4 separate regions of the Homo sapiens genome follow, and all the other regions are linked to region 1. Evidence: fine-mapped expression QTL. A gene starts in region 1. Each other region holds a variant in brackets. All regions are shown on one strand. Distances are from middle to middle. Region 1 holds the start of PGM5 (phosphoglucomutase 5). Region 2 overlaps PGM5 (phosphoglucomutase 5). Region 3 overlaps PGM5 (phosphoglucomutase 5). Region 4 overlaps PGM5 (phosphoglucomutase 5).

Region 1 (8,110 bases):
ATGTTTGAAATGTCTATTTCAAACTTTATGAGATATTAAAATATAAGTAATATAGTTCATCATTTTAGAAATGCCATGTTTTTCTTCTCCAGCAATTACATAATCAAAGAGTAACTGTAGTTTTTCCTAGAACATTGCTTTGTAGGCTGGGCATGGTGGTTCATGACACTTTAGGAGGCCAAGGCAGGCAGATCTCTTGAGATCAGGAGTTTGAGACTAGACTGGGCAACACAGAGAAACCCTATGAGTAGTAAAAACACAAAAATCAGCTGTGCATAGTGGCATGCACCTATAGCCCCAGCTACTCAGGAGGCTGAGGTGGGAAGATCACCTGAATCTGGGGAGGTCAAGGCTACAGTGAGCCAAGACTGTGCCATTGCACTCCAGCCTGGGCAACAAAGTGAGACCCAGTCTCAAAAAAAATGAAATTTAATTTAAAAAAAGAAAATTGCTTTGTAAAATTAACTTTTTCAATCAAAACCAAGATTTTTCAGATATAGAGAATGCAGCCCACTGGTTAGATTTGTCAGTTCAAAGAGAATAAATTCTAGTTTTCTATTTTTCTAGCCTGCTTATGAGTATCCAATAGGATATCAAAAAAGACCAAAGCCTTTGGGATCCAAGTTCAGTATTCCTGAGTCTAATTCAGGATGCCAAATCAGGAGACAAGCACATTCTCATCAATTTTCAATCATTCAAGACCAATTTTGCTTATAATTATCCAGTTCTTTTAGACCACCTTTCTCCTGAAGCCAGCCTTATGGCTATTCACTTCACTTTAGCATAAGCCCCCAAGAAGGTGAACAAAATGAGGAAAAGATTGGTTAAAGTTGGCTGTTTGAAATTCTGAAACATGTCCACCATTCCCTTCACCCATGCCCACCCCTCTTAGAAGTAGTACTTTCAGATTATTTAAGAGTCGATGCTTCTATGTGGATTTTAATTTGTCATCTGTCCTTTATAACAGCTAGTAGGTTTAATTTGACCCTATTTTAAGCATATATTGACCTATGCTAATTATCTGTTAAAATAAATTCCACTCTTAGAGTTAATAAAGTGTGTTTGTCATAGAAGACCCATTGAAGTAAGAAGCTGAGGAGTCCTTATGGTAAAGTGGGACAAGAAATAATAAGACATAATAATTTTCCCATGCAAATCAACAACCGTAGCTTCAAAAATATCCTGACCCACAACAAGTATTGGACAGGCCATGTTTCTCTCACTCCCTAAAAAATTGGCTCGGGAAGAAGTATGAGAGCTCCCATAGCTCTCCCAAGGCTCGTTATTCTCCATCACTCCACAGGAACAGCCTGTCAGAGAAGAGTGAAAGACCATTTGTCAACCTCTCTTCAACTCCCTGATTCTAGCCAAACTTCATCAATCCCAAGTGAGGAGCCAGAGATAAATCAAACCCCATATATCCAGCATCATTGTCTACTGGAGTCAAAAATCACAATTCCACTACCCACCCCAACACCACTGGCCCTGTTTCTCCCAATTGCGTTTTATTATGTTTTTAAAAAAATCCTCTTTCCCCATCCCTGCAACACCGAGAAGGAGGAATTATAGTAGATAAATATGAAGCATGGAGATCCTTTAAAAATGTTTTTAATAATAAATGAGAAAATGAAAAGGAGAGGGTTGGGAAGGAAGGAGGGAATTCAAATGCCAGGGAATTGTTCAGTTTCGCTTTTAAAGATGTTAACACTCATTTATACATCTGCAAGACACTTTCCTTAAAGAAAAGTTCTATGAGTGTGGGTCTGGTTGCATGAATAAGGATAAAATTACTTTTTTAGACGATGTTTCCCACATATAATTCAGAGACCCCTGAAATTAGGTATCCCTCTTGTAGATGTCCTTGAGATGCTGCTGGACCTGGGAAAGAGGAAACTGGGATATGGGTCTATGCCAAAAGGTGCTTCTAGTTATAGGACAGAGAGGAAAGGGGCAGAGGGAGAAAAACCTGAAGTCTGAGAATCTGGATTGCAGAAGACTACCGAGGTCGTGGGAGAAGGGAGAGAAAACAAGGATGAAAACCGAAAGGGGAAGAGGCATGAAATGTTGTCAAATGCCAAAAGGCATTTGGAGAGAAGTTGGGAATTGCATTAAGAAAACCACTGCAAATCTCATTTCAGACCATTTAGAGATATGCCCCCTGGGAACTGCGAGCTCAGGCTGTTTAGCATCAAACAAATGGATCCACTCCATCCCTACCCTAATTAAATAAATCATTCAGTAATTCCACTGGGTTAAAGAACCAAAATAATAAAAACCTTCAGGGCCTACTCTTGCCAAATATGTCAGGGATCGTGTGTGTGTGTGTGTGTGTGTGTGTGTGTGTGTGTGTGTGTGTGTGTGTGTTCTGAGACACCACTACTGTTAAATAGGCAGAGCTAAGACTTAGGGGACTGGCAGATTATTGCAAAAAGGGCACGGGGCAGAGGGACTATGTTGTGAGCCTGCGAAAGAAGTTTGTGTGGGGACTGTGGGCAGTGAATGCGTTGGGAACAATATGGAAAACTGGGAGCTGCCTTGGAATCTACAGGGCCGGGTAAGAGAATGTCCGAAAGAAAAATGAGCAGGTGCGGGATGTGCGCAGAGTCGGAGAAGAGTCCAGGGCGCCCGGAGTGGCTCCAGGAACGACGGAAACCCCTCAAGGCTTTTGGGGGCGGTGGGTACTAATAGAACCCAGTGTCCGGGGTGCACCGGGGAGGCTGCGAGCGCGGCGGGAGTGGGGCGCTGGAGGGTGAGGACGCGGGAGTGAGGTAGCAAAGCCGGGGCCGGGCAGGGGCCTCCCAACTGGGCCCGGAGGCAGCAGGGGGACAAGGGCTAGGAGAGGGCATGGCGGCGGCGCGGCGGGAAGCGAGGGGCATCCGGACACTCACCCCGTTGGCCGCGGCCATCTGCACCACGATCTCGATGGCCGTCCTGCTAAAGTACCTGCCGTCGCTGCCCACCACCATGGTGCAGCCCTGACGGTCGCGCAGGTCGATGGACGACAGCACGCTCTGGATAAAGTTGGGCAGGTAGTTGCGCTGGCCCTCGAAGAGGCCGGTGGGTCGCCGCAGACCCCCGCCGCCGGCCGGCCGCTGGTCCTCGTAGGGCGCGGTGGGCACTGTCAGCACCGGGATGGGGCTCCCCTCCATGGCGCCTCCTGGCCGGTCCTGCTGCGGCTCCCGGAGCCGGAGGGAATCTGCAGCCTGCCGGGGGCCTCCACCAGCCTGGCTGCGCGCCGGGACTCCGCCTCGCGCCCGGGCCCCCTCTCCAGCAGGTCGGCGCCCTGCGCCCTGCACCCGCCCGCCTGGGGACCGCCCGCCCCTCCTCTCCGCGCGGCCGCTCGGCTGACTCTCTCGGCAGAGATTGCTTCTGCCTTCCTGTAAAGTTTTCTCCCACCCACCTTCTCCGCTGCCAGACCGCCCGAGCTGCCCTCAGTTTCTCCCCAAGTTGGACTCACTTTCGGGGTGTCCCAAAAGCCTGATTCCAGGGCCTGCTAGCCCGACCCCGGTGACGCCTCCACCCGCGCCTGGCCCCAGCCTTCACCCGCGATCGCCGCCCTCCGGGGCACACCCTCCGCCAGAAAACAGCCGGCGGGCGGCGAGACTTTGGGCAGAGTCCGGGTTCCTCTCCGGCGCCCGGCCCGTCTCCCTGTCTCCCTGGGAGTGCGCAGCCTACACACACCAGTTTCTCTTTAGAACAAGGACGGGGAGGGATTTGGGAGGGGGCTGAAACCTTTTGCCATCAGCGAACAGCCTCAGCCAAAAATAACCCTGGAAAGGCGAGCTAAGAATGGTTATCTCCTGCCAGCGCTGAAATCGGAGGCTGGGCGCTGCGTGTGGGGTGTGTGTGTGTGTGTGTGTGTGTGTGTGTACCCTCCCACCCCGACCATTTGTTGAAGGGAATCACCACTGTCAGACTTCAATCCAACAGGACCCACTCGAGCCATCCACACTTTCCCCAGCCTCCTCCAAAACAGCACACTTTCCGGTATGGACAATTCTTTTTTTTTTTTTTTTTTTTTTTCACTTGTTTGTTTGTTGTGGTGGTTGCAACAGCAGCAACACAGACGACACATATTTCCCTATTCTTCTCGCCCTTCTCACCCTCCCTACCCAGCTCCTGCCTTAGAAATAGGCTTTCCTACACTGTATCTGTCCACACTGTCTGAACTCTTCCTTGAATTAATCGTTTTCAATAGGAGGGGGCTAAATCCCTTATTAATGCCCTACCAGGAGTGAATGAATAAAGCCAAGTTAAAGGAGACCTGGGTACCAGATACTGTGCTAGGTTCCTTTGCATGTATCCTTTCATTCTGCTGGAGCTAAAGATTTTCTGCCTCCTCTCCATAAAACGCACCCAAACTCCAAAACCAGGAAATTCTCCATAGAAAATAGGAGTGAAGAGAGAAAAGACTAACAGGATAAAACCCAAAGCAGGAAGAAAGTTCTATCTCCCATTTCTCTCAAGGAATTTTTGGACCCACCAAGGCTACTGTCCTGAAATATCCTGCTGCTTCTCCTTCCCCAAATATTGTCCACTTACTGAGAGTAAGGCTGACTTGCCGCAGGCTTATAAAGTGTTTGGTCACAGTAAGACAACTGTGAGTAATAACACACATTGTATACTGTTTTGCAATTGATTAAAGGCTTTGCATCTGTTTTTTCTTTGGAGGCTGAAGAAAAGAAGAATGGTATTCATGCAGTTCCCATTTTACAGATGAAAACAAGAGGACTTTTTCTGTGAAGTCAAGAAAGTGGTTACAATGGTACTTTCAGCCTGTCCGAATTATGTATTGCCCCTCCCCTTTTTATTAATAACATTGAAGTGTGATGGGACAACCACTGAAGCCGTCTGTTGAAACCTGCTGGGACTTTTTAGCCATTCTCTTCAACATAAAGAATGGGTGTTTTTGGAGGGGGTGAGAGGAATGGGGAAATGTTGTCAAAGAGTACAATGTTTTAGTTGAGACAGGAGGAATATATTTTGTTGAGATCTACAGCACAGCATGGTGACTGTAGTTAACAATGAAGTATTGTGTATTTCAAAATTGCTAAGACAATAAATTTCAAATGTTCTCACCACAAAAAAGATAGGTTTTGAGGTGATGAATCTATTAATTCTCTGGATTTAATTATTCCACAATGTATACATATATCATAACATCACATCATACCTCCGTAAATACATACAATTTTAATTTGTCAATTAACATTTTTTTAAAAGAATAGTGTGGCCAGTCGGGGAGGTAGTTTTTTTTTTTCCTCTAGTCTCTACTCAGTCTCCAAGATCCCATTTCCCATAAAGTTCCTGTCACCCAGGTGGAGTGCAGTGGCACAATCATGGCTCACTGCACCCTCTCCCTCTTGGGCTCAAGCGATCCTCCTGCCTACAGGTACATGCCACCACGCCCAGCTAATTTTTGTAGTTTTTGTAGACATGGGGTTTCACCATGTTGCCTAGGCTGGTCTCGAACTCCTCAGCTCAATCAATCTGCCCACTTTAGCCTCCCACAGTGCTGGGATTACAGGTGTGAGCCACCAAGCCCAACCCATAAAGTTCCTAACTTTTTATCTCCCTGGGAGTGCACAGCCTACACACACCAGTTTCTCTTTAGAACATACTTAAGAGTCTTGGCTTAGCATCCAACAGACAGAACTTTAACACTTCTAGGGATCTGTGCACCTGTCTATGGTGTGGGGTTTTTAAGATCTCTTTCTAATGACACTTTTTTTTGCAAAGCAGGACAGTTTCATTCCCAGAAGAGCAGGTATGGTAAATCCTTTGTTCCAGTAACGAAGACAATGATCCAAACCCTAAGCCTCAGAGAAGCCCAGAAACCCTCCAGGCCTCCATCTCTCTGCTCCTAGCACCTGCCTCTCTCTTGACATCAACATCATTCTCCCCTCTCACAGCCCAGCTCCTTCCACAGACCCAGGGATTAGGCACCAGCACCTCAGACTAGATTTTAGAGAATTACCATTCAAGAGGCAATCCTCTTCCCTTGGTTCCAATTTCAAGGTTCTCAAAGACTGGAACAGGGCTAGTTTGAGGCAATGTGCCCTACCACATAGCCAGAAAGAACCTTACAGTGACAAGGAAAACAAGTCTTCCAAAGTAAGGGGGTGCTGATCCCCAGAGGGAGGACAGATGGGCAACCAAACAGTAACCGGGCCACCACGTGCTTCACACTCACTGATCAAGGATTTCTAAAACCATTTGTCTTTTCTCTGAATTTATATAGGACTTTGTATCACTCATAAAGGAATGTCTTATAGGCTGATAACACCTTTCTATTCATGCTTATACCTAACATTTAGGCTAGGATAATTTCCTAACCTCAGTGTCCTCACTATAAAATGGGAATTATTATAATCCCTACCTCATAAATTGTTGGGAGGATTAAAATACTTAGTAAAGTGCCTGACTAATAGAAAGGCATTCAATAAATGTTAGCTATTCATGGTGTCATCATCATTATATTTACCATTATTACTAATCTCCTGTATTGCAAGAATTACAGTTTATATTTTTGTAGACCATCACTGTAGCTAAAGGGTCTTTGGGCCATAGGTGATATTCCATAAAGGTTGGTTAAATTGTTCTGTGGTTTTTGACTATGGAAACTCAGAACTCCCTCAAAATGTACAAAACAGATTTACCTGCTAAATAAATCTCTTCAAAGCTGACCCCAGGTTTAATTGAATTAATTCCAATGAATTTGTCACAATGATGGAGAAAGGAAACTTAGAGGGCCCCACAGTTGTTTGCTGGTAAAATGAGAAGTTTGGATTAGATCAATGTTTCCCAAAATATTTTCCTCAGAATGTTAGTGCCCCTCGAATCCTGCACAAAGCAAGAGTTTCATGACCAAGTAGCTTTTAAAACTCCTGTACACTCTACTCCCATTCTTCACAATGCACACTTTCATATTAAAAGTTCTGAGAGGTCCTCAACAGAAGACATCAATTAACTTTTTTTTTTTTTAAGACAGATTCTCACTCTGTCACCCACGCTGGAGTACAGTGGCCACCACTCCTGGCCTAAAAATTTTTTTTAACCTGGTGCTTCCCAATCTAAACTCACAGGGACCAGTTTTCTTAATGAAAGAGAATCAGACTAGCTTGTAACCATAGCTGGTGACATTCCCCTGCCCCATTCCTTGTATGTCCTCAGTGGACTAGGTCAGAAATAAATAAATTTTCCTGATTCTCAAGGGCTGGTCACTCCTTTGCACTGAGCTCAAAGCTTCTCTGTAGCATGGGTCACAATGAATGGTAGCCCTGATAGCCTAGAGTAGCCTTTCAGCCTTCTCTGAGCCTCTAAAGACTGAGGATTCTTGGCATGAAATAGGAGCAACTGATATATCCTTGCTTCCCCTGGGGACTCTCTTGCTCTCAAAAAGGCATCAGCCATCATCTCCATCTAGAGAATATACTAGCTGACTCAGTTTGACCAGCCTGTCCCAAAATGAGAATCTGGGTAAAATAAGTATTGAAACACTTCATTCCTTGTAGATTCACAAAACACATTAGCATATTAAAGACTATGAAGTTCTGCAGGAAAAAAAACCTATTTAACTTTAATCCAACATTGCCAAGTTTTATTTGACCATGGAAGATTTTTCCAAAACACTTACAAACAGATCAAGGACATTAATCTTTCATGAAACACTTTAGATCCCCAGGGTCCTCTCCAGCTACATCATTCTGTGATTTTCTTTTTTATTTATGATGCATTAAAAGATTAATCTCTATCAGACTTCCATTTAGAAATTCACCAGAATGTGCAAAGGCAGCAGGTAAAATTGCCGAAGGGTATTATAAAAATACCCTCCAGTGATTTTTGAAACTTAAACTGAAATATTTATATAACTATATATTTCAGTTTGTATATTACATATATATGTATATACACACATATATATGTGTGTATATATATTTGTGTATGTATATCTATATCTATGTATATATGGCATTATATCCATTTTACAGATGCAGAAACTGAGCTTTAGAGGGGGTGAGCAATTGGTCCAAAGCCACACAGCACACAGGTAGTCATTGATAAAGGTAAAAACAAGAGTTGAAGCCTGAGGTGTAAGGACACAGAGACA
Region 2 (8,110 bases), 140 kb before region 1:
ATTTATTCACTGGGCAAACATTTTAGTGTGGCCCTTATGGATTAGGCACTGTGCTAAATCCTGGGTATATGAATATAAAGACACAATAGTTGTCCTCCTTAAGCCTGGAGTAATTTTTTACAACGAACAGAAACTGTCTTCTTAACCACCTTATGCTGCTGGAGAAGTGAATAGTTACAAAATTCCAAATGGAGCAAGTGAAGCAATTACTGACTGTCTACAAATCACTGTATTTCAAGTTACGTTCAAACCTACAATAAATCCCCAAAAGTCTCACAATTATATTGATATTCACAGCCTTGTTTTTACAAACTCTTTTGAAGCTGTTACCTATGTTTAAGCCTACATTCCCGTTGTCACTACACGTGGGGCGCGTGAGCACGTGACTCTGCTCAGAACTATGGCTTACCCATAAATTGGTTAAAGCAATATCTAAGGATGAGGTCCTAACCCACCTGTTGCAGATTCCAAGTCACTTGGGATTACCTCTTCTGATGAGCCCCCAGACTCAACCCTTTGAAGTACCTCCCATTAAACAATTAACATTCTCAGATTCATTTTTGGCCAGTGAGGGGAAATTTAAGAATTCAGGTCATAACAAACTATAAACATGTGTTATCTGCTCATAACTAAGCCTTTTAAAAATGAAATAATGTTATTGTTTTCCCCTGAGGTTAATTATAATGTCTTTGACTATACTACATGCTACATGCCTAGAAGATTGTTAGAACCTATGTCTGGTAGCCTGGAATAGATTTCTCACTTGGAAAGATGACAAAGATGTGAATAGCATGCATCAGCCTACTGGAAATGGTCCAGCATCTTCCCTCTTTCCTAGGAAACTAACCATGAGATCTTAACTGAGAATCCATGTTGCTTTTCAAGACCATTCCAGGTGAGGAACATCATTAATTCTCCTTCTCCACATGGAATGTAAGGGTTTCTTTAGAGCCAGCCTAGTTCTGTGCTGCAACAATCCCAGCACCATGTCTGCTGAGGCCCCCTTTTATGTGTGAATAGCTGTATTGGATTGCTTTGGGATCTGCATGTTCTTTCAACGAACTTAATGAATTTGCAACCCAGACACGAGCCATGTTCTTTCCATCATGTGTCATCACCCAATAGCATTTAAACTATGAAGCCAAAGTTACCACTGACCAAGACTTGCAAAGTTTCCAATTGTTCCTGAATTTCAATGAAAGAATACCAATAATCGCATTTATTTTTTAGGTTATACTAGGGGTTGGCACTATGTAGCCTGTAGGTAAGAAGTTGACCTGCCACCTACTTTTATGAAACAAGTTGTACTGGGGCACAGTCGTGTCCATTCATTTATATCTTGTCTATGGCTGCTTTTGTGCTGCAGTGGCAGAGATGAATAGTTGTGGCAGAGACCATCTAGCCCCCAAGGTATAAAATATTTACTACCTAGCCCTTTACAGAAAATGTTTGCTGACCCCTGGTATAAGGCATTACATTATTCACAACATAGAATACTTGCCTTTTATCCCTACAGCATAAGATAGAAAATATAACCATTTGAATTATCAAAATCTCAGTAGAGAGAAATTATGTTTATGTAGATTGTTATAAGGATATAAAATCCCTCCATTCCCTGGTGTTCCAGCTTCTAGTCATAGGTTCACCTGAACCTGTATTTGGCTCAAATCAACTTACCTCTCACCACCTACTCCTAACATAAATGAATTTATTAAATTGCACTTTAGTTTTATGTTCTCACTTTTACTGCAGGATGCTACAAGCTATGTCTTATAAAATCCACTTTTGTAGTCACTAGTAGAAATATTGTTAGAGGCTGTATGAAGCTCTGCCTGAGACATTCCTTCAAGAGCCAAGTATTAGGAAAGCCTTTCCTTCCCTAAGGAACTTGTATTCTTTTTCTTTCTGACAATAAGAACTTTGTAACTAACCACATTTCCCTTTTCGATATGGCTGCCAGGATACTTAATGCCAAATTTGAGGTTCAGCCCAAGTGGATCCTCATGACTTGCATGACTATAAATTTTTCTTCTTCTGTTCTTGACTCTACTCTTACTTATATATTCCCTAGTCTTGATTTATGTTTCTTATTTATATTCTAACAACTTCATTATGTGTGTTTTTGCCGCCACAAGTCTTGAAGAAACAAGGCTCAGTGAAAATGAATAAAACAAGTTTCCACCGCAGTGTTAACCTTAAAATTTTGGACTTGCTGAGTTATGACTTTGGGTTCTTCATTAGCTAACAAGCTCTGGGAGGACAGAGCCTTATATACCTCATTCATCATCATTTTATCCACATAGCCTAGGACAATGCCTGGCACACTGTAGACCTTCCATAAACACTTGTTGAATGAATGTCACTGCACGTTCGACAACTAAAGTGAGCACCACTGCAGTCCCCCTGAGGCAGTCTCAGAGAGCCTGCCTTCGCATTTAGCAAGGATCCACAGGCTACATGAAAACACATGCACGTTCTTCATGGTGAACTAGAGCTGATGTATCTACCTTGAAGAGTGGTTGCAAAAGATAAACTAAGAAAGTGCCTGGCATAGCATCATCATGGCAGGGCTTGACTGTTTATTCCTCCACCATTTCTCAAGATGTCTTAAGACAAGGGCCAGTTTTGGCTAAAAACAATGGAGTTGAACCATGGTAGGTTCTTGTCCCCAGATGTATGACCTTAGGCAAACCATTAGCTCATTAATTGCAAAATGCTACATATTGAAATCAGTGGGAGGTCTTTAAAAAATGGTGGTGCCTGGCTTTCACCCCAAACATTGTGATTTAATTCTTTTGGGGTGTTACTTGGGAATTAGGATTTTAAAAGCTTTCTGGGTGATTCTAATGTGCAGTAACTAATTGCAATAACCTCTTTTTTCTGGGTCACTTGCCTCATCTATCAAGTGACTGGACTGTGCTACATGTCCCTTATAAGGAAGGTCCCTTTAGGATTTAAGGTTTCATACATAGGCTCTCACTGGGCTGGGACTGTAGGAGGGCTGTTAACACAGTGAGGCTAATAAAACAACTTCATGCCACTGAATCCTGAAAGCTTCCCCCTGGGGCCTTGTCAGCAGCAGAACCACCTCTTGAACCATCTGACATTATTATTTTTTTTTTTTAGCACAGTCTTCGTAGGAATTCCTGGAGCAACTGTGAAAGAATTCATGATATCTCACTAGCCACAGCAGCTAGAGTAGCCGGAATATCCAGGATGACACATAGCCACACACTCAAAAAAGGGAAAAATATGCTCTCCTTTATTAGAAGACAATGTTAATTATGTGGTGGGGAGGAGTGTGGGTATCAAAAGAGCACTTCAGTTCCAGCTTAGTGTTTTCCTTACTTTTCAGTGCCTGTGGTTGTGAGCTTTAATGATGACAGTCGAGTTCTGCTCACCTTAGCTTTGTCCCAGTGAAGAATGATTGATAAAGGATTTCATAACCCTTGTCCATATGCAGCTATCTCCACACAAAAATCCTTCAGTGTGCTTCCAGTTATCACTGTAGCATCTCTTTTTCTCCCTGGATTTGCCCCCTCTTTGATTTGCTGTTTATGAAGAGTCAGTTTGGAAATGATACAAGAATAGCAACTGGATAAACTCAGGCTAGAATGCTGGCTTGGCCACTTTTTTAGCTGGTGGTCTTGAGTCACTTAAGCTCTCTAAGCCTTAGTTTCCTAAAAAGCAGTTGAAAAATAATACAGCCTAGCTTATTGGGTTGTTGTGAGTGTCAGATCTTAACATCCTGAAAGAAGGATCTTAGAGTCATTCTTGCCAATCTCTCTTTTTATTGAAAAGAAAGAAGTTAAAACACTTGCTCAAGGTAACGTATTTAGTAAATGGAGGAGCTTCATTTACTTCCATTTAGGTCTTCTGACTCTAGGCTTACAATCTGAGGTTGAACCATATGCAACTACTGATATTCACACATTGCTTCTCATGCGAAATATCTGAACAATATCTTATGTTTTGTATTTTTCCCAAAGCTGACACAGAGCCTTATGTAGAGTAGGTATCTGATAAATGTTTGATAAATAAATGTTAGGGTTTTTACTATTTTTTTAATTTTAAAAATAAACCCTTGTGTAAATCAATACAGGGAAATCTGTAAGTTGCTAAATACACACAGAGCTGCCAGATATTAGTTTGGAGACTGTAGGACATGTTGTAGCCAGGCAGGGAAGGGTGAACTGTACATTACCAACAGTTATTTGGCAGCATTGGACCTAGTCAAATACTGACTTGGGATGAATTCCAGGGGAAAACAGCATATGGCCCTGCAATCTGGTACAGTGTCGCATATATAGTCAGTTGGCCACAGCAGGCATGTGAACCTGGAGACAGGACAGCCTTGGAAGAGAGAGACTCTGCGAGCCTAACTCAGATCTTATCTCCCACAGGAAATCACAACGATTTATCTGGAAAGCGTCAAGGTGAAGATACTGCTTCGTAACATCTGAACCATATTTTGTAGAAGTGGGCATGCAGCCTAGAAAGCAGGAGATTTGGATTGAACAGACGTATCTTTCCACACACACTAAAAAAACCCACCTAGAATTACCCATTTTTCTTTGTTTAATAATTCATAGAGTTAGCTGTGAGCATGAGT[C/T]CAAAAGTGGTTGAGCAAGGCAGCAGTTACTCCATATGGTGCTTTTGTGTGAGTTAAAAACAGGTGCCCCCCTCTACCCCCAGCATGGATAAATTGCAGAAAACCATCCTTCCTTCGGCTGGCTTGGACTTCAGCTTCTCCTTCCCCATTAGGCTGGGTACCATTGTGCAGTGTGCTGACTGCACAGCCATACTCAGCTGCCCTGCTCTTGGGAGCAGTTCTCACCCAGCCTCTTTTAAAAACCAACCAGCCTTCTTGGGGGCTAACAATTGCAAAGAACTATCTGGGGAAATCAAGGTCAAGTGACTCCTTACACGCTCTTTTAAAGCACTCACCTAGAAAAGCCATGCTAGGTGATGAGAGGGCTGCTGGAGGGCGAAGACTTGAAAGCTATTCCTCATCCAAATTCCAACTCTCAAAACTGGAACAATGGAACAAAATCATGCACCTTCTATTTCCCCATTTCTTTGGCCAATGACTGCTGATCCCTGTTCACACAATATCCACCCCAGTTCTGGGATATTTTGGATTCAGGCACACTTTACCCAGACAACGGCATAGCTTCCTCCCTTAGTTCCTGTGATCATTTGCAGCTTTTCTCTTTTATATTTATATTTCCTGGTGAAGCTCATCCACCCGACAACACAGAGACATTAGTATTCCAATAGAAAGTAACTGTGTTGTCATTCGATAATGCTTACACGCTTGCTACACATTTTAGGACAATTTTACTACTGACACTTTAGACAATAGTTCTAAAGCAATCAACTTATGCCAGGAGAAGGTAATTCTTTATAACAATACTCCAGTTAACCAGAAACAGGGAGATGAGAACTTCCCGACTAACCAGAAACAGGGTCTCCCTCATTCTATTTTCTTTCTCGCTTTTTTAAAAATTTGAGATGAGGTCTCGCTGTGTTGCCCAGGGTGATCTTGGACTCCTGGACTCAAGCAATCCTCCTGTCTCAGCCTCCCAAGTAGCTGGGACTACAGGCATAAGCCATTGCACCCAGCTTCCCATTTTATTTTCAAATCAGCTGACAGGTCATTATAAAGTACTGAATATGCGTTTGGCCTTCAGAGGACAAATAGGAAAATCACAGGAAAAGTGGCTAGTAGAAATTATTTTTTTAAACCTATGGTTTTCAAAATGTCCTAGCACAAGCCATAGTGCAATACAGAGCCCGACTGTCTTTATTTTCCCCAACTACAGTGTTGTAGAGTGAGCACTGAAGTTGAGAATCCTAATCACAGTTATCGTAGCATCCCATTGAGAATGCCTATAGGAAACCTTAGCTCTTTATCTGGAGAGCTAAACAACCATATAACAACCACATTGGACTGAAGAAAAGCAAAGAGTCTGATAAAATGGTTTCACCTGGGCTGCCTTCTACCCATTCTTCAGAGTACAACTTAGATATCACCTCTCTATGGAGAACTTTCTAGAGCCCTAGTCTAGTTTCCCCCGCTATGCACACCAAATAAGTTCTTCCTCTGTAATACCGTTCAACAAACTCTACAGTAATTAAAGTTTAATATCAATTTATCTTCCCTGCTAGATTTTAAGCAGCAGACAGGAATCTCAACTGTCCTGAATACTGTTGTATCCTCGGTGCTAATGAGCTGACTGGCGTCTAGTAGGTGTTTGGTAAATACTCACTGAATAGATGAAGTTGTAAATGAATCAGCCTCTAACAACCTTCACCATATTAGACTAAGTTAGGAAAGGAATATATGTTTATTGCAGAGATTCTTTTCAACATCACAATTTTCAAAGAAAAAGGTTTTTTTAAACCCACATCGAATCACAATAAACTAAATGTGATAATAGCCCATTCACTTAAACAGTTCTGTGACTCAGTGTAGAAGTGCTATTTGTGGGTATGCTAATTTTCAGATTTAACTAAATTCTATAGGTGGGTTAATCAGTGTGACTAAAATGATTTCTGAGGCTCTACTTCCAGATGCGCAAACCACACTCCAGCAAATGGCACTCCAGCAAAAGGGACAAGGATAAATTGTTACAATTATAGTCTCTCAATTAGTTCATTGATTAGAATGTGATCAAAGTTGAAGTTGAGGTCAGGCGCAGTGGCTCACGCCTGTAGTCCCAGCACTTTGGGAGCCCGAGGCAAGCAGATCACCTGAGGTCAGGAGTTTGAGACTAGCCTGACCAACATGGTGAAACCCTGTCTTTACTAAAAATACAAAAATTAGCCGGGTATGGTGGCGCATGCCTGTAATCCCAGCTACTCGGGGGGCTGAGGCAGGAGAATCTCTTGAACCCAGGAGGTGGAGGTTGCAGTGTTGCAGTGAGCCAAGATCATGCCACTGCACTCCAGCCTGGTGACAGAGCGAGACTCCGTCTCAAAAAACAAAAAACAAAACAACAACAAAAAACAAAAACAAAAAGTTGAAGCTGAAATTTGACTAGCTAACTCTGAAGAGAGAAGAACTCAATCTTAAAGCTTCAGATTCTCCAGTTGATATGATTCAGTTGCTTTTATACAGTGCTGGGGACAACACCTTAGTGAGCTGCTTCATATTTGCTGACCAGGGGTTTGTTGCATCGAGGTACATATTAAAACACCACATGCTGGAAATAAAATGTGACTTTGAGATTGCCAATTTACTATTTCTAAACACTGAAATTAAAAAGAGCAGACACCTTCTTGCAAATTAAAATAACAACGCTAAAAGAAAACTGACTTCAAAATCAGTCTTCAAAGTGTGCTTTTTCTCTGAACTAAATTCAAACGGTTCTTTTTTTCCAGGTTAAGGACAACATCAAAATGTTTCCACATAGCCTGCTTAACTTGAAGAGGTATTAATCAGCTCAGAGTTAGCCTGACATAATCAAATTGGATTTGGTTTTCCACATCACCTAACTGGTATGCATTTATTTACATCAGCTTTTTAACCATCAGCTGAACTGTGACTTGCAAATGACTTCAGCACTGGAAGAGTTTCATGATTTTTGAGCTTGTTAGAAATATAGGAGTTGGTTTGGGAGGCCGAGGTGGGCGGATCACTTGAGGTCAGGAGTTTGAGATCAGACTGGCCAACATGGTAAAACCCTGTCTCTACTAAGGGTATAAAAAAATTAGCTGGGCGTGGTGGTGCACGCCTGTAGCCCCAGCTACTCAGGAGGCTGAGGCACAAGAATCGCTTGAACCCGGGAGCAGAGGTCACAGTGAGCCAAGATCACACCACTGCACTCCAGCCTGGGCGACAGAGCCAGACTCTGTCTAAAAAAAAAAAAAAAGAAAAGAAAAAGAAAAAAGAAAACAACAACAACAACAACAACAACATAGGATTAGGATGAGTCATAAAAAGAGACTCAGTTGCTTAAATTTTGCTCCTGAAGTGTCAAGGTTTCTCATTTCAAATCCAGTTTTCAAAATATAGGTCATGGTTCTGGATTGATACCCACCATAGTGGAAATATGCTGTCTCTCAATGTGGAGCCATTTCTGTCACACTGTCCTTCACTCACAAT
Region 3 (8,110 bases), 90 kb before region 1:
GGAAGAGGTTAAAGTTTTTTACACTTTCTTGATAATAAGAACCACCTGGGGTGCTAATTAAAAATGTGAATTCCTGGGCCTCTTTGCTAGAATATTCTGGGTTACAGGTCTTGGTTAGAGCCCAGGTGTCAGTACTTAAAAGCAGTGGTTTTTTTGTTTGTTTTGTTTTTGTTTTTGTTTTTATTTTTTATTTCTAGAGATTCTTGTTTTTAGGCAAGTTTAAAATAGTTAAGACAAACTGTACACAAATGACAATGATCAATTAACATATGCAATTGTATATCTCTATTCACAATTTTAATAGCTGAATTTTGATTCATGTATCATACAGTGTTTAAGAGGTCCTCAAAAGGGGTTCACACTTGAACTGACATTGAACATTGGTGCTGGTATGAGAGTCTACCATGTGAGCATGCTGACTATACTGGTCAAACCCCAGCAGGCTGAGGTCCAACTCTTGCCTCCCCTGGACATCTCTCTTAAATGTAAGCAAAGCAATTGTCCTCCCCACCCTACCCCCATAGCTGTAAGCATCTCACTGGATTTAAAATCTGACAGACTGGGGTTTGAAGTTGCACTCTTACACTATTAATTCTGCGACACTTGTAAGCCAGTCATTTATCCTCTCTTATCCTCAGTTCCTGCATCTAAGATTAAAGAGGCTGTGCAGTAGAGTGAAACAAGCTCTGGCTCCTTGGGTAGACAAACCTGGGTTCAAATCCTGATGCCCACCTTTCACTAGCTTTGGGGACTTGGGTAAGTCACTGCTTTTCTACAAGCCTTCACGTGCTCATAGGCAGAGATGGGGGCAGTTGCGACACATGATAAACACTCCATAAATGCAGCTATCACTTAACAGGCAGAAATCCTTACCTTGGGTAGGGGAAGGTGCCTGTGTGAGTTGAAAGCTCTCTGACCATGGGGTCCCCATCAGAGGGCACCCATAGCTGAAGTTCACCTTGAGGAAAAGAATCTCTCCTCTCTTGAGGAAATACTCCTCAATTTTACTTTCCAGGGACTCCAAAGGCTTGCAATTCCCAGACAAGCCATTCTTTTTGCCCTCCAGGGCTTGGTGATGCTGCTTCCCTCACTTCGGCTAGCTGAGTCTTAATTGTCCTTTCAGTCTCAGCTTCTGGGAAGCAAAGCTAGAGCCCCAGGGCTATAGACTAAAGGTCTGTGTCCACTCCAAATTCATATGTTAAATCTTAACCCCCAACGTGATATTATTAGGAGGTAGGCTTTGGGAGGTGATTAGTTCATGAAGGTGAAGCCCTCATAAATGGGATTAGTGCCCTTACATTAGAGACTCCAGAGAGCTCCCTCGACCCTTCTGCCACATGAGGATACAGCAAAAAGACAGCCATCTATGAACCAGGAAGCAGGCCCTTGCAACACACTGAATCTGCTGGGTCCTTGATCTTGGACTTCCCAGCCTCCAGAACTGTGAGAAATGCATTTCTGTTGTTTATAAGCCACTCAGTCTATGGTAATTTACTATAGTAGCCCAAGTGGGTGAAGAAGTCTAGAATGAGAGGCCCCTCCTGGGGTTCCCCAGAGAGACACAATCAGCCCACAATCTGCTGTCCCATAGCACCTAGAGCATTTCTGCCACAACACCTTTCACACTATGCTGTCCCCTGCATGCATCTCCAGCAGCTTCAGGAGGACAAGGGCTGTGTCTTTCTCTGAATATCAACTCAGTTCAGGGTCTGGCAATGAACAGGGCTTGAGGGGTGCCTATTGATTGAACAATGATCTCTGGACTATATTCCAATGGGCGTAAGAAGGATTATCAAAAACTCAGGAGTGAAGAGATTCTAATATACAGAGCCCCAGCTGCTTTGAAAATCACTGCAGGTAGCAAGTGGTGCTCCTGCTGCAAGTGGACTTTGGCTGCACACAGAAAAAGAGTTTGAGAACCCCTGAGCTAACTGAGAAGAGAAGAGAGGTCCTGGTTAATGCAGGTTTGTTAATGAAATTAGCATGACTCTTGGGTGCTGGGTGGAAGCCTCTAAGTGGGAACAGGCTGTGCATGAAGGTGCAGGGGTCTCAAGAGAGGCTACACGCAGCCTTCCCTAAGTGTCTCCCCAAACAACCCCTCCCTGGGTGACTCGGCTACCTGGGTGCCCTGGGAAGAGCGTTGCTACTGCTAGACCTGTCCCAGAACAGAGGGTTCATACCTTTGGAGGACACATACTGTCACATTTCTGTGATTTTTAGCCTCTCCTGCAGACTTTTGTTTACTGGGAAATATACTTCAAAAAGGTGGATTTCAAAGAAGGAAGTGAGTCTAGGATTAGAAGCTACTGGAGAAGACAACCTATTTGCCTACAAGTAGAAGCCCCTCCTCCCCTCAAAGCCCCTTTTCCTCTTCCCTCTTCCCCATCTTGTAAAATAAACCATAGTTTATTTCAGTGAAATTTCTATAGGTTTGCAACAAACCCTTTCTTTTTCTTTGCTCCAATTTAATTTGTTTCTGCCCCTGGCAACCCAAATGCCTGTATTTAAACAACCAGTATCCTCAGACTACTAACTGGAAAACTGAATTACCAAGAGATTAAATAGTTTGTCCAAAGCTATGAACTGGTAAGTGGCCGGGCAGGGAGTCAGGCCCTGTCCTGTCCAATTCCAGAACCCATTCTCTGTACACTGAATCATGCCAAGATGTTCTTAGGGACCTCTATGGGTATTTCTGGATATGTTTTGCCTATAAAAAATTGTTTATAAAAAGCGTGCTGGATTGAAATAGTGGAACTGTAGGAAATACTTGCTGCAAACACCAAAACTATAGCCTTCTTCTAGTAGTAATAATAATAATAATAACAGCTAACATTTCAGCATTTACTATGTGTTAGGCATTGTGCTAAACACTATAAAAGGATGTTATCACCTTTATCCTCCCCATTCTTAATAGAGGATATTGAGACTCAGAGAGGTTATATGACTTGTCCAAGGCCTCAGAGCTAGTACAAAAAAGCCCTGTGGTTCAAAGCCAGCTCTCTCTCTCTCTCTCTCCAAACTCGAGCCTCACTGTACAGAAGTGAATGGTACAGCGCAGGAAGGATAAACTGAAACCTTAAGGAGGCAGTGGTTGCTTCTCTGCAGCCATCATTATAATTCACAACAGGGAGGCAAGTACAAGTAATGTCAGGATGTGCAACTTGTGAAATTTTCACTAAAAGTCAGAAGGCCAGTGGTGAGATGGGATTTTAGTGAAAACTAAGAGGTCGGCTGCATTTGGCAGTGAGCATGATCCTCAGACATGTCCCTCCCTCCGGCTTGGCACCAGCAACCCCTTATGATTTATGCTTCAGAGTCACACAGAGCTTGCAGGCACCAACTCTGCAGTAGCAAAGAAAATGGATGGTCTGCCTTGGGATGTTTTCCCTGCA[C/T]GCACCACGTTCCCTTAAAAGGCCTCCAGAGTGTATACAGTTCTGACAGGAGGGCAGAGCTAAGGAACGGCTGGGCCACTCTTCCCCCTTATAAGGTCAAGTATTACAATGGCATCCTCCCTTCTAATTTATGAAGCAAAAGAGTGGAGGAATGCCGATCAGGAGATGGGAGGATGTTTTACCAGAGAGACGATATAAAGCTCATCTTGCTGGCAAATGACTTATAAGACCAAGTGGAACAGAACACACACTTGATGAGTTGAGTTTCTTTTTAACTCTAGAGAATAAACACTTTTATTCCTCTCTCGAATGTCAACATTTCATGAAGCCAAAGTATATGCAGAGCTTCTCCACCCCAGTATTAGAGAAAGTGAAAAATAAAGCAAGAATAAAAACCTGTAGACTTCATCCTTCATAAATTTATCTCCCTCCTTTCCTAGCCTTCGTTTCCCCATTAAACACATATACACACAGAGACACGCACAGCACGTACACAACCAATCAGGCTTCTGAACAGAGACAACAATTTCATTTTAAACAGAACACAGAAAGAAATAGGGGATCAGTCCTCTACAAAGAGTTCTTCTCCCTAATGGGCCTTGCCCATGTTGTTAGAGGCTATAGACCAAGTTTCCCTATTCACTCTCTATCCTAAGGTTGGACGCAACGAAGACAAGAGGGTGTATGAAATGAGAATGTATGGGAAAGTGTGTTGCACATTGTAAACCATATAATATGCATAGTTATTTCAAACATTGTGGTAATGTCCTCCTTGAATTATTACTTTTTAAATTACTATTTATTGGTTTTAATACACAACTGGTTTCCTTGGATGTAACTGAGTATAAGTTGTGACATTATTTAAATTACTTTCACCCTTGTTATAATTCACTTTCATTTGGTCAGGCCTCTGGATATATTTGGAAGGACATACTGGGCCAAATGACCAATCTCTTCTATCTTGCCTCAAAAAGCCAAGGAACTCTTGGCATCCATGCTACATTTTAATGGAGCATCATACAAGGTAGTGGACAGGGAAAGACTCAGGCATTTTATACACATAAAAAATATTCCTTCACCATTTGTAAACCACATGTCTGTAAGGAACACCTTGATGCGAAACTGATTACTTTTAAAAGGCACTTGGAGATCCCCAGATACATGGTAGAGCACAAATAACTACACGTAAGAAAACAATGGACAACACTCCCTTCAGTGTAACTCCCCAAATGAGAGGTGTTTAGTGTAAATGTTTAGCCTGAAGGTTAAACTTCTTACAACCAGAAATTTACTAAAGCAGGCACTGCTGAGCCCAAATACATAGAATTTGAAAAGGTTCTATTTAAGGTCTTCATACGATCAGAACAATAAGGAAAACTCACAAGGTACTCACAGCAGACTCTCTACCCTTTGGGTTTATTGAATGGCTACACTTGAGTCAGAGTGAGTGAGCAAGTGTAAGGAGAGAATGCAAGATCTCCACGTTGTGTCCCAATATGCAGGCGGTGGAGCCCCTGGCTACCCTGGTGTCTGCTGTATTCCAAGCATCCTCACACTATCTAGGGAGCCTAGGAGGGAGCTTTCAAAGGGTATGTCCAGTTGTTCAACTTTAAACATTTTCTAAGTGCTTGCAGCTCCAATGGATGGGGTTTCCTTCTAGGGACTGGGAATCAAACAGATGGTGTGCAGGTCTTTAGCTTTGATCACCTGCATTGGAATTACCTGACAACGTTGTTTAAAAATGCAGACTCTTGGGTTCTGTTCAGAAAGAATGGATCAGAATCTCTGGGGATGGGGCCCTGAAATCTGCATTTTACAAGGGATTTTTTTTTCCACCTATCTAATCCTGATAAGATTCTTACGCACTCTAACATTTGAAGACCACTGCTATAAGCATTAAAAAAAAAATCCTATTGAGTTTAACACAGTTTTATACTCAGCTAAGAAATTAAGTTATGGCCCTAGACCCAAAGTATATATTTCTTAAGATTTGTAACAAAAAGGGATATTAGGGGACAGCTAGTTCAGCCTCTTCAGTCTTTAGATGAAGAAAGCAAAGCTCCAGGCAGAGTAACTGACTTGCCCTGGGGTCGTAATGCCAGCTGAAGGCCAATCCCTGTGGGAGTTCTGGTCCAGGTCTAGTTCCAAAACTATTGCTCTTTCTGCCATAATACCCACCACCTTTTCCACTCCTTCCTGTACCCCTTCTTTGCTTATCTGTACACCCTCCAGGGGTGTTTAGTTTAAAATGTAGAATAACCCACCATGGTGATCTGAAAGCTGTTGTTTCTGCCTTTCAAATACCCAACCCCTGCTGAAGACAAGAGACCACTGGTTTACTTTTGTAGAACTTTTCCCCTCCCCAGTGTATGTCACTCAAGGTGATCTCCTCTTGCCTGGCCAAAGAGTGGGCATGCGACTCAACTCATACTAAGAAAATGCTGAATCTTGAGTGAAGTGAGAATGGGGGAAATGTATGTCATTTCTTCCTTGATCTGGAAGATAATTCTCTGGAGAGATTGCCCATACATAATTCCTACCACCTAGGTTCCTATTATTTTTGAGACCAGCTTTTTCATTGATTCTGGGTTACTCCTTATCCTTCCATTGCATTCCTTTTAAGTAATCTAAAATTGGTCTTGCTTCTAGCACCCCAATAATTCTACTTGACCCATTTCCTTATATCATAACCATATGCACTAGCATTTGACTGAATCCTATGGAAAGAGAAGTTAGGGTCAAATATCTCCCTTTTGGAAGCAGAGAGGATGTGAGACTTGCAGTTGGATGGGTGGGGATGAGGCAGTACTGGAAATCCCAGTCTCCCTCAATGCCCACCACTCTACTTATTCCAAATAGCTCAATATTTCTGTCTTTGATCCCAAAACACCCCATCCTTGAACTAAAAGGCTATCTGTGCAACTGAAAATAGAAAGTCATGAACTCACAACTGCAAAGTGATCCAAAAAAAAAAAAAAAAGAAAGAAAGAAAGAGAGAGACTCTTCTAAGTAGCACATGCAATCTCCTCAAGATCCAGTGCCAAAAAGCAAATGGGCTCCACCATATCTGCACAAGTAGACAGATTGCCCTCCTTGTCAGTCTGGGTTTTACCTTTAACATTGTCTCCCTCAGACAGGACCCTGATCCCTGATGTACACTACATCTGCATGCAATTTCCACATAATAGGAGCAGGGCTCCATTACTTTAAAGTCTTAAATGCGATTAAGAGGTCTTTCTGCCAAAACCCATATTGCTCTTTTGTTACAAAGCTATACAAATATTTATGTTTTCTGTTTGACTTGGCAGAACAAAGGACTCTCAGACTCTCTACTGCTCTTGCTTTGAAATGACCGTCTATCTTCTGCTGCAAGTTACTTGCCCTTTACTGTGATTCTCCAAAATAAGTTCTAACTTTTTGGAGGAGAGTTGATAAAGAGGTCTAGCATTGGTAGTTGCTCCAGAGAAGTGGTACGCAAGCTGCACAGCACATTAGGATTAAGAGGGAAGCTTTGAAATATATTTTAAGGTTTTAAATTAACCTACAGTGAAATTGACTTTTTGCTGTGTTCTGTTTTATAAATTTTGACATGTGTAGATCTATGGAACTAGCACAACAATCAGGAAACATAACATTTCCATCAACCACAGAAACTCCCTCATGAAGTCACACACCTCCCTCCACCCCTAGCCCCTGGCAGCTACTGCTTTGTTTTTGTCTCCATAATTTTGTCTTTTTGAGCATAATACAAATGGGATGATACAGTATGTGACATTTTGAGTTGGGCTCCTTTCATTCAGCAAAATCATTTGACATGCATCCAAGTTGTGTGTATCAGTACTTCTGTTTAATTGCTGAGTAGTATTCCATTGTATAGAAATATCACAGTTTATTATTCACCTGTTGAAGGACTTTGAGTTGTTTCCATTTTGGGGGCTATTATGAATAGAGCTGCTATAAATATTTGTGTACAGTTTTAATTCTGTAGCTATAGAATAAGAGTGGGAGTACAGGGTCATATGGTAAGCATCTGTTTAGTTTTATAAGCAATTGACAAACTGCTTTCCAGAGTGGCCCATTTGGCATTTCCATCAGTACTATATGACAGCTCTAGATGATATGCATCCTCATCAACACTAAGGTATTAGCAGTAATTTTTATTTTAGCAATTCTAATTGTTATGTAGCAGTATCTCATCACAGTTTTATTTGCATCTTCTAATGGTTAATGATGTTGAACACATTTTCGTGTTCTTATTTGACATCCATATATCCTCTCTGGTGAAGTATCTGTTAAAACATTTTATATAATTTTAATTGGGTTAACTGTTTTAACTCTTTAAATATGTTGAAAAGATTATACCTTCTCATATGAATTGCTTTAGCACCATTGTCAAAAATCAGTCAGCCACATTTATTTAGGTGTATTTCTGGACTCTCTATTCTGCTTCATTATCTCTGCCTTTGCTAATAACACATTGCTTTCTGTTAATTAGAAAGTGTGATTACTCCCAGCACTTTGGGAGGCCAGGGTGGACAGATCACCTGAGGTCAGGAGTTCAAGACCAGCCTGGCCAACATGGTGAAACCCCATCTCTATTAAAAATACAAAAATTAGCTGGGCATGGTGGTGGCTCCTGCTGAGGCAGGAGGATCACTTGAACCTGGGAGGTGGAGGTTGCAGTGATCCAACACGGTGCCATTGCACTCCAGCCCCAG
Region 4 (8,110 bases), 31 kb before region 1:
TATTTTGTTCTGAATAGTACAGGAAACACCATTTAATAACCCAGAAGAAAAACATAAATTTACAATCGTTTTAAAGATACAATATAGAACAATATTTGCTTGAACTACTATTTATTGAGCATCTACTATGTGCCAGTTACTGTGGTAGGAATACAGAAGATGTATTCAGTCATCTAGTTCCATAAATTTTTTCACCTGAAATTTTTCTAAAAGGTTGCCAGAAAGAAATCAGCTACATAATAATGATTCATTGTCTGTTGCTTTTCATGTATTAAAAGTTTTAGCTGAATATATGCAAAAGCATTAAAGGGCTCTAGCAATGTTCTTTGTCTCTGCAATCATTTGGACTCTGCCAAGTATATAATTAAACACTATAAACCACTGAAGCATATAAAAACAAGCACATTTTACCAAAATACATGCCAAGGAATAGTATTTTCCAGTTCAATGAACATTATGGAGTATGCAATATGGAGCTGCTCTGCTAGGAAATGAAGGGATCATATTGAAGGGATGCAAAGCACATAGTTTCTACATTCCTGGGCTTGTAATCTAGTAGTGGGATGAGTCAAAGCTGCAAATGAATGACTGCAGTGGTAAGACTAAACAATGCACATTGATGAAATAATTATATCCAATGGCTTCAGAGAAGCAATAACCACACATAAGGCTTCAAGGAAGAAGCAGCATTTCTGGTGGAACTTGACGGAATAATATAAAGTTGGCAAGTGTTTGGGTTTAGAGTGGGAAGCCCATCTAAATCGAAGGAACATTATGAGCAAGGGAACAGAGCCTGAGGTAGAACATAAGGCACATCTGTGGAACAGCATGTAATCCTCCTAGCTGAAATATCTGAAAGATATTGCTTTCCACTTATTTTCCACCAATACAACACACAATCCTCCAATAGTGAACATCTCTTGATTGTGCCTGCCCAGCACACATTTCCTCTTCCTCTGGATACAGCATTTGGGATTTGTTTGGAGAAAAACTCTCTTCCCCATCTCAGTTCATGGGGTCTGGGTATGGCTAAATCCCACCTCCCCAAGGCTAAGGAGGTGACCTATGTCTGCGCAATCAGCGTCCTCCATCTTCTAGCCAGAGCAATTGATTCAAAGATGGACATACAATATAAACCAGGCAATGAGGCTGAAACCCAGAAACATTGCTCATACTATTTGGAAAAAAAGCAAAGCTGTCTTCCCTGTAGGCCAGATAATGCTAAGGCAAGAACCTGAAAGTTCTTTTCCTGAGGAATATGATCAGCCCAACAAGAAAGAACAGAACAGCCTAGCCAGAAGCCCTTAGAGTAAGGCCCATGGAGAAGACCCATAGCAGGCTCAGAGCTCCCAGCAGATTTTTAGTGCCTCATTCTTAAATATGCCAGAAAGCCAAGGATCACCAAAATTTTGAGGAATGTATTTGAGATGAGGTGAAAATAAACAAAAAGTAAAGAGAAACCTGGAGGAAACAAAAATTATACAGGGAAAAGAAAACTTTTTAAAATATATCAGTAATATCCTAATAGAGATTAACAAGATAGAGTAGAATGGCTAAAATGGAAAAGACTGACAGTACCAAGTATTGGTGAAGATACAGGTAAACTGGAGCCCTCATGCATTGCCAGTGGTGCAAATGGAACAGGCATTTTGGAAAATGATTTGGCCGTTTCTTATAAAGGTAAACATACACGTATCATATGACTCAGCAATCCCATTCCTAGCTGTTTACCCAAGACAAATGAAAACATACAGACTTGTTCACGAATGTTCACAGTATCTTTCTTTATAATAGCCAACAACTAGAAGAAAAAGAAATCTAATTTTCATTAACCAGTTAATGGATAAACAAATTGTGGTATATCGACAACACAATAAAATTGTACTCAGCAGTAAAAGGAACAACTACTGATACATGCAACACCAGGAATGTATATCGAAATTATTATGCTGAGTGAAAGAAGCTTGAAGCAAAAGGTGACATATTGTATGCTTCCATTTACATAACTTTCTGGAAAATGCAAAACTATGGGGGCAGAAAGCAGATGAGTGGTTGCCAGGGGCTGGGGATAAGGGGAGAGGTTTGACTACAAAGGGCTGCCAAAAGCTCTTTGGGGTGATGGAAATATTCAGTCTTGATTGTGATAGTGGTTACATGACTGTATATGTTGGTCAAATCTTATCAAACTGTATACCTACCAGGAGTGAGTTTTACTGTGTATAAATTATACCTCAGTAAACCTAAGTTTAAAAAGATATGGTATCCATGAAACATAACTAGGATGCGTTTTTACAAGAGAGAATCTTTGGAAAATACAAACAAAAGTTTTGGGAAATTAAAAATATAATGGTAGAACTAAAGGACTGGAAGATAAAGTCAAGGAAATTTCCCAGAAAGTAGAACAAAATAAAGAGATGAAAAACTGGGGAGGAGAAGGGGAAATAGAATAATTAAAGGATCAATTCAGTAGTAAAAATAACCAGAATGGTTACTAAATAGTAATTCAAAAACTTTTCCAGAATTAAAGGACACAAGTGTTCAGACTGAAAGGGTCCATCAGGTGTCCAATATAATAAAGATAGAGTCCCACACTAAGATCCATTATTGAAAAACAGAGGAACACTGAAGATAAGTCAAAGGTCCTAAAAGCTTCCAGAGAAGAAAAAGGAAAGACAATGGATTAAAAATCAAAATAGCACTGGATTTCTCAAGTTTAATATAATAGCTATAACACAGTAGAGCAATGCCCTCAAACTTCTGAAGAAAAATAATATCCAACTTAGATTTCCATATCAGTCAAATATTAATCAAGGGCAAGTGTAGAATAAAAGGCCTTTTCAGATATACAATACACAAAATATTTACCTACCATGAGCTTTCTCTCACTGAGTTCCTGGAGAATGTGTTCCTCCAAAATGTACGAGTAAATCAAGGTGTCAGACAAAGAAACCAGGGAACAGGACATTTAACATAAGAGATGTGTAAAAAGAATTACTACCATGGTGATAAAGGGAGATTTCATGATGACAGCATGCTCAGAGAGCAACCAGGGCAGAGTGGGGCAGATCAAAGTCTCCAGGAAAATGAAGTGAAGGAAGATTTAGACACTAGCGGAGAGCTTGAGGATTAAGAGTGGTAAACATACTTGATTAAAAGCAAGCAATGAGAAAACAAGATAATTGCTGTTTCCAAGGAAATCAAAAAGTTGTACTGTAAAGGAAATATAATTATAGCATATTGCATGGCTCAGCAGTGTTGTGGTAATGTAAACACTAGATAATGATCTTACCAAACTGGTGATATAATTAGGGAAGCATGCTAGGATTCCCTAACTGGTGGGTGGAAAGGGTGGGTGGAGAGGTGGGTGGTGGGTGGAGAGGGTGAAAAAGAGCTGCAGCTCCAGTTCCTGTAGTATGAATTCAGTAATGCTCAAAACTGAAAAACCAACAAGGGTCTGTATATTCATAATATTTAATGATAGGGAGATAAATACAAAAAAGAAACAGCTGAAAAAATGGAAAAATTTAACTCTGGAAGGTAACAAATTGGGGGAAGATAGGAGTTGGGTACAGATTGTTTTCACAATAAATCTTGAACTATTTATTTGACTGTTTAAACTATGCCATGCATATGATCAAATAAATAACAGTTTTACTATACTCCACACTTGAACATGCATAGCCTCAAACTCATTTGTTCAACTTTTGTTTTCATTTACATCCAAAGACAGAAATAAGGGTCCTGAAGTTTTCCAGAGCATTCCAAATATCTGAACATACACATGTTGTGTGAATATCTATGAATCCAACTTTCCTCTTAACCTCTGAAACCCAACAGGTGTACAGGTCTCAATATTTCCTGCCCACTGATTTGGAGAAAATCACAAGCTTACCTCCGTGCATTGCGTCAATGCGAATCTTCAGTTGGCTGGGTCCAGTCAGCAAACCCTTGATGGCATGAAAGTCAAAGATGGTCCGAAGGAGGTTAAGATAGATATCCACTGGGTCCACTATCTCCACTAAAGATAGAAAAACAAAGGAAAATGTCATTGACTGTACCCATGAAAGATACTTGGAAGCATAAAAAGAATCACTACCTTAAGAGCATGAAATTCTGGTCACAAGCCCATCATATCCCTGCACATGATGTGGGAAGCGAAGTGCCCATTTGTTGACAAAAATCACAAATCAGGGCACAATCAAGATACTACAAGCTTTTCAGGTGCTCAATGGGTATAAATGATACCAAGTTATAAATTCTTCTTTGCAAGGAAAATATCAACCACAAGAATAAATTAAGATAAAAATGTGCCCTGTTACTCCTGCTCCCACTTTCCCTCCCAAAAAAATGCACACAGCACACATCTCAATGTTTAGAGGCATTTTGGCATATCCAGTTGCCTTTCTTGTGGGGGCTGGCCAAAGACTGACTCAGCTGGTATGAAACAAATCAGCAAGTGACCTCAGTAGTGACCCCTATTTTCCAAA[A/T]GCCATTGTGCCTACCAGATTCGAGTGCAGAATTGGTGATGAATATATTCCTGGGTTTGCGTGAAATCTCATTCATGCCCAATCTAGCACCCAATTTCCAAATGAATGGCAAATATCTAGAAGTTCTCATTAAACACAAATGCTTTCCAGTATCTAGCACCACCCAGTAACCAATAATCCAAAAAGTTTTATTCATTTATGTGACATACCAAAAAGCTCAGAATACATTTTTCATACTTGTCAATCAGTGTATAATTAATGCTCAGAAAGTACTTTTCCAAGAAGTAGTAAATCAATTCTTTAGGTGCTAAAATTTGTCCAGGAGCCCTGCTTTTTTAAATTCATAGCTAAATTTTGAAACTTACGTATATTGTTTTCAGATTTTTCAAATACATACTACTTTGAAACCCTGAAATACTTTTAAACTTGCACTGAAGATATTACCAACCCACTTTCAATAATTTTTAGTAAATCCAGGTGTGATATTTAATGGATGAGATCTTAATATGCCATATAATATTATTCCTTCATCTGATCAAATACATATCTAAAAATATTTTTTCTTACACTTAAGTCAATGTAATTTATGTGTTCATTCAAATATAATTATATTTGTAACATGGATACTTTTAAATTATCTTTTTACATGAGGAGCATAATAATCTATGAAGTAATTAAAAATTAACCTGTATAAAGTGTACACCTAACAATGGTTAAAATGGTAAATTTTGTTATGTATATTTTACCACCATAAAAAAATTAATCTGTAAGACAAAAGGTTATGCCCTGAGTACTTTGGAAGTTTTACTCACTCTACATTATAGGATAATGTTTTTGACAATTTCATTCTGGCTCTTCAATTCTTGAACCACTTGCCTAAATACATTTGGTATTTACAATAGGTAACACACAGTACCAAACAAATGTGAAAAACGAGGGAACAAGAAGTCAGTAAAAATTGAAAGTTCACATCATATAGTTCATGCTCTTGACACTTTAAAGTGAAATGCAAAGGAATTATTTGTTCCTAATTAACTCAAGCTTTGCTCAACACTTGAACCAGCAAGAATACAGCACATAAATTATCCCAAACGATTATCTCCAAATTCTTGGAAGCCAGGGAATCTCTCTACCTATCTCCTGGTATCAGTAACATTTTTAGAAAACTCATTCAACTAGCAATGTGGCTGCAGCAATGAGCCTGAATGAGAGCCCACGAAGATTCGGGTCTCTCGGACAACTATAAAAATTGTGAAGATGCCAAAAATAAGCCTAGTCCTTCCAACCATATGTAATCAGCATATTGAAATCATTTTGCTTAATATAATGTACCCCTTGCCTTTAATTGTCCAGCCATCCCATGCATGTGCACACATATGCCTATGCATTCTCCCAGCTAGATTAGCAAAAGCAGGCACTGTTGCTTCCAGTGAGTATCATGGCTCTCTGTAAATTTCTGCTCATTACCTAAGCAAACAACTGACTCAAAACTTCTCAAGAAAGATTTGGTAACATTGGGCAAATACTGTGACCCCCCACACAATCCATTTTAATCTTTTCTCTATCCCTAAAATATCACATGGACACAAACCAGGTATTTCCTCTTTTGGGCTAAGTTAAATTACTTCTAAAATGAGGATACCATCTTAACACAAACTGCATTCAAGCTTATAGAAGCACTAAAAAAGTAAAACATGTTAGATCTATTGCTATTCTATGCCTTCTAGGAAAAAGCAATATGATAAAATACAGGGGGAAAATGTATACATACATGTTATTAATGTTGTTGTCATATGGTCTAAAATTAATCTATAAAACAAAAAGCTATCTTCTGAATACTGTAGAAGTTATATTTGCTTTACAATATAAGATAATATTTTTGACAATCTCATTTTGGTTCTTTAATTTTTGAATCACTTGCCTAAATATATTTGATAGTTACTGAATTCCTTTGTAAAATCTCCTAACACGGTGCTTGGTATAGGGCAGGTGATCAATAATTATGCATTCAATAAGCTGATGCATAATTATTCCAAGCTTGGTTATGGCTTGGAAAAGAAACTCCTACCTTTCATGAGAAATTTAATAACCCATTGACTTGTTAGGTTTCTTCTTAACTAAGGCATTCCAGCATCTTCACCTTAATTGCTTAGACAAGTTTTGGCAATTCACAGCCTATTTTTGGAATGCTATAATGAAGTCAACCATAAAACTTTTCCTATGTTGAAAATGATATCGAGTTTGGGAAGTGGTTTTTGAAAGTTTCCAGTTCTGAATATCTTGGCTGCTCTCATGTCTTCTCTCTACACCATATTAAGTTTACACACATTTATCGAGTCACCCCTGAGATTAACAATGCAATAATTTTCATGAGTTTACTTCCCTACAGAAACCAGTCAGCCCCATCCACATAGTTACTCTGACTTCTTCAAAATAAAATCTCTGTTACCTCTGAATGGTTTGAATTTGTTTTCTAGGTCAAATTCTTGTCTTCCTAGTCGAGATAGGTCGATTCGGAGATCAGGACATATAGCATATTCCTCAATCGTTTTGCTGATTTGGTAGATTTTGTCTGAGACAACATCGGGTGCAGGACCTAAAATGTGAACACCAAAAATACATGTTTTTGAAAGTCTCGTGAGTTTCAAGCAGTGAAATGTTACCATCCTCCTCCACCAGGCAGAAAAAGATTCATTTGTTCTCTAAACAATGATCAATGGTTCACAGTTCAATTAGCCTTGATATTTCTTATACTGTACTCATCCACTATGGGGGAAATTTGATCAGCCTCACCTGTTCTATGTAGACTAACAACCCATATGTTTGTTTGTTTGTTTTAATCCACTTCTAAGCAATGACACATCTTTCCTAAAAATAGTTTCACACCTGCCAGGGAAACCTGGTTACGTAATCAGCTTTATTCAGGTTATGAGACACAAACAGGATATGCATTTGACAGAAGTGAGGGATTCCAGATTTACATGCAGCTTCCCCAGTGCATCTAGAAGAGGAGACTATGCTTTCTATTCCCAGCTCTGCTACCTAATTGATGTGTGAGCTTAGCAGGGTAAGTTAATTATTTTCCCCAACTCACAATCTCTAGTCACTTCCAAAATGAAGCTCAACTAAAAATATGTGATGCATTTCCTCGGAAGACCAAATTGACAAGTAGTATTAGACTTTAAATAAATTGAACATGAAATCAATACTTGTTCACCTTTTGGGGTTTTGCTTTTTTTTTTTTTTTTTTTTTACCTTGTATATCTTAATGCAAGCCATTTCAGATTTTTTTTTTTTTTGCAACAAGGTTGAGAAACAAATAAGTAGATTGAAAGATCTAAAGTATAAATGATCGCTAGATGTATAGATAGCTTTCTGTATGAATCTTACTTGTCAACTATACTGTAACTTTCTACTGAACAAAAATTGTTTCTTGATTTTTAAAATATCTCAATCCTTAGAACTGCATTGTCCAATACAATAGTTACTTGTCACATTTAGCTGTTGAGCACTTAAAATGTGGCTAGTCAAGTTGAGGTGTGCTGCAATTGTAAATGCACACCAAATTTTGAAGAGTTAGTAGAAAATGCAATCGATTGCATTAATAATTTTTATATTGATGA

Evidence for each region. PIP is the estimated chance that this variant, and not a neighbour inherited with it, causes the effect.
Region 2: its variant is fine-mapped to the expression of PGM5 in cerebellar hemisphere (GTEx, PIP above 0.99).
Region 3: its variant is fine-mapped to the expression of PGM5 in tibial artery (GTEx, PIP above 0.99).
Region 4: its variant is fine-mapped to the expression of PGM5 in whole blood (TOPMed, PIP above 0.99).

What each region holds. Positions count from the first base shown.
Region 1 is chr9:68,352,167-68,360,276 of GRCh38, reverse strand. It overlaps PGM5 (phosphoglucomutase 5), which reads right to left and starts at 3,666. Exons shown (of 11, transcript NM_021965.4): 1 at 2,889-3,666. The coding sequence starts at 3,149. PGM5-AS1 (PGM5 antisense RNA 1) reads left to right here and starts at 2,411. Exons shown (of 3, transcript NR_121192.1): 1 at 2,411-2,554; 2 at 3,931-3,987; 3 at 4,672-5,113.
Region 2 is chr9:68,489,237-68,497,346 of GRCh38, reverse strand. All of the region lies in intron 9 of PGM5 (phosphoglucomutase 5), which reads right to left. Among named protein-coding and RNA genes, the nearest start is that of TMEM252, 48 kb to the left of the region's middle. The variant C/T (reference allele first, on the strand shown) is at 4,613.
Region 3 is chr9:68,442,325-68,450,434 of GRCh38, reverse strand. The region is part of intron 6 of PGM5 (phosphoglucomutase 5); the gene reads right to left. Among named protein-coding and RNA genes, the nearest start is that of PGM5-AS1, 89 kb to the right of the region's middle. The variant C/T (reference allele first, on the strand shown) is at 3,393.
Region 4 is chr9:68,383,371-68,391,480 of GRCh38, reverse strand. It overlaps PGM5 (phosphoglucomutase 5), which reads right to left. Exons shown (of 11, transcript NM_021965.4): 3 at 6,937-7,083; 4 at 3,893-4,018. Among named protein-coding and RNA genes, the nearest start is that of PGM5-AS1, 30 kb to the right of the region's middle. The variant A/T (reference allele first, on the strand shown) is at 4,488.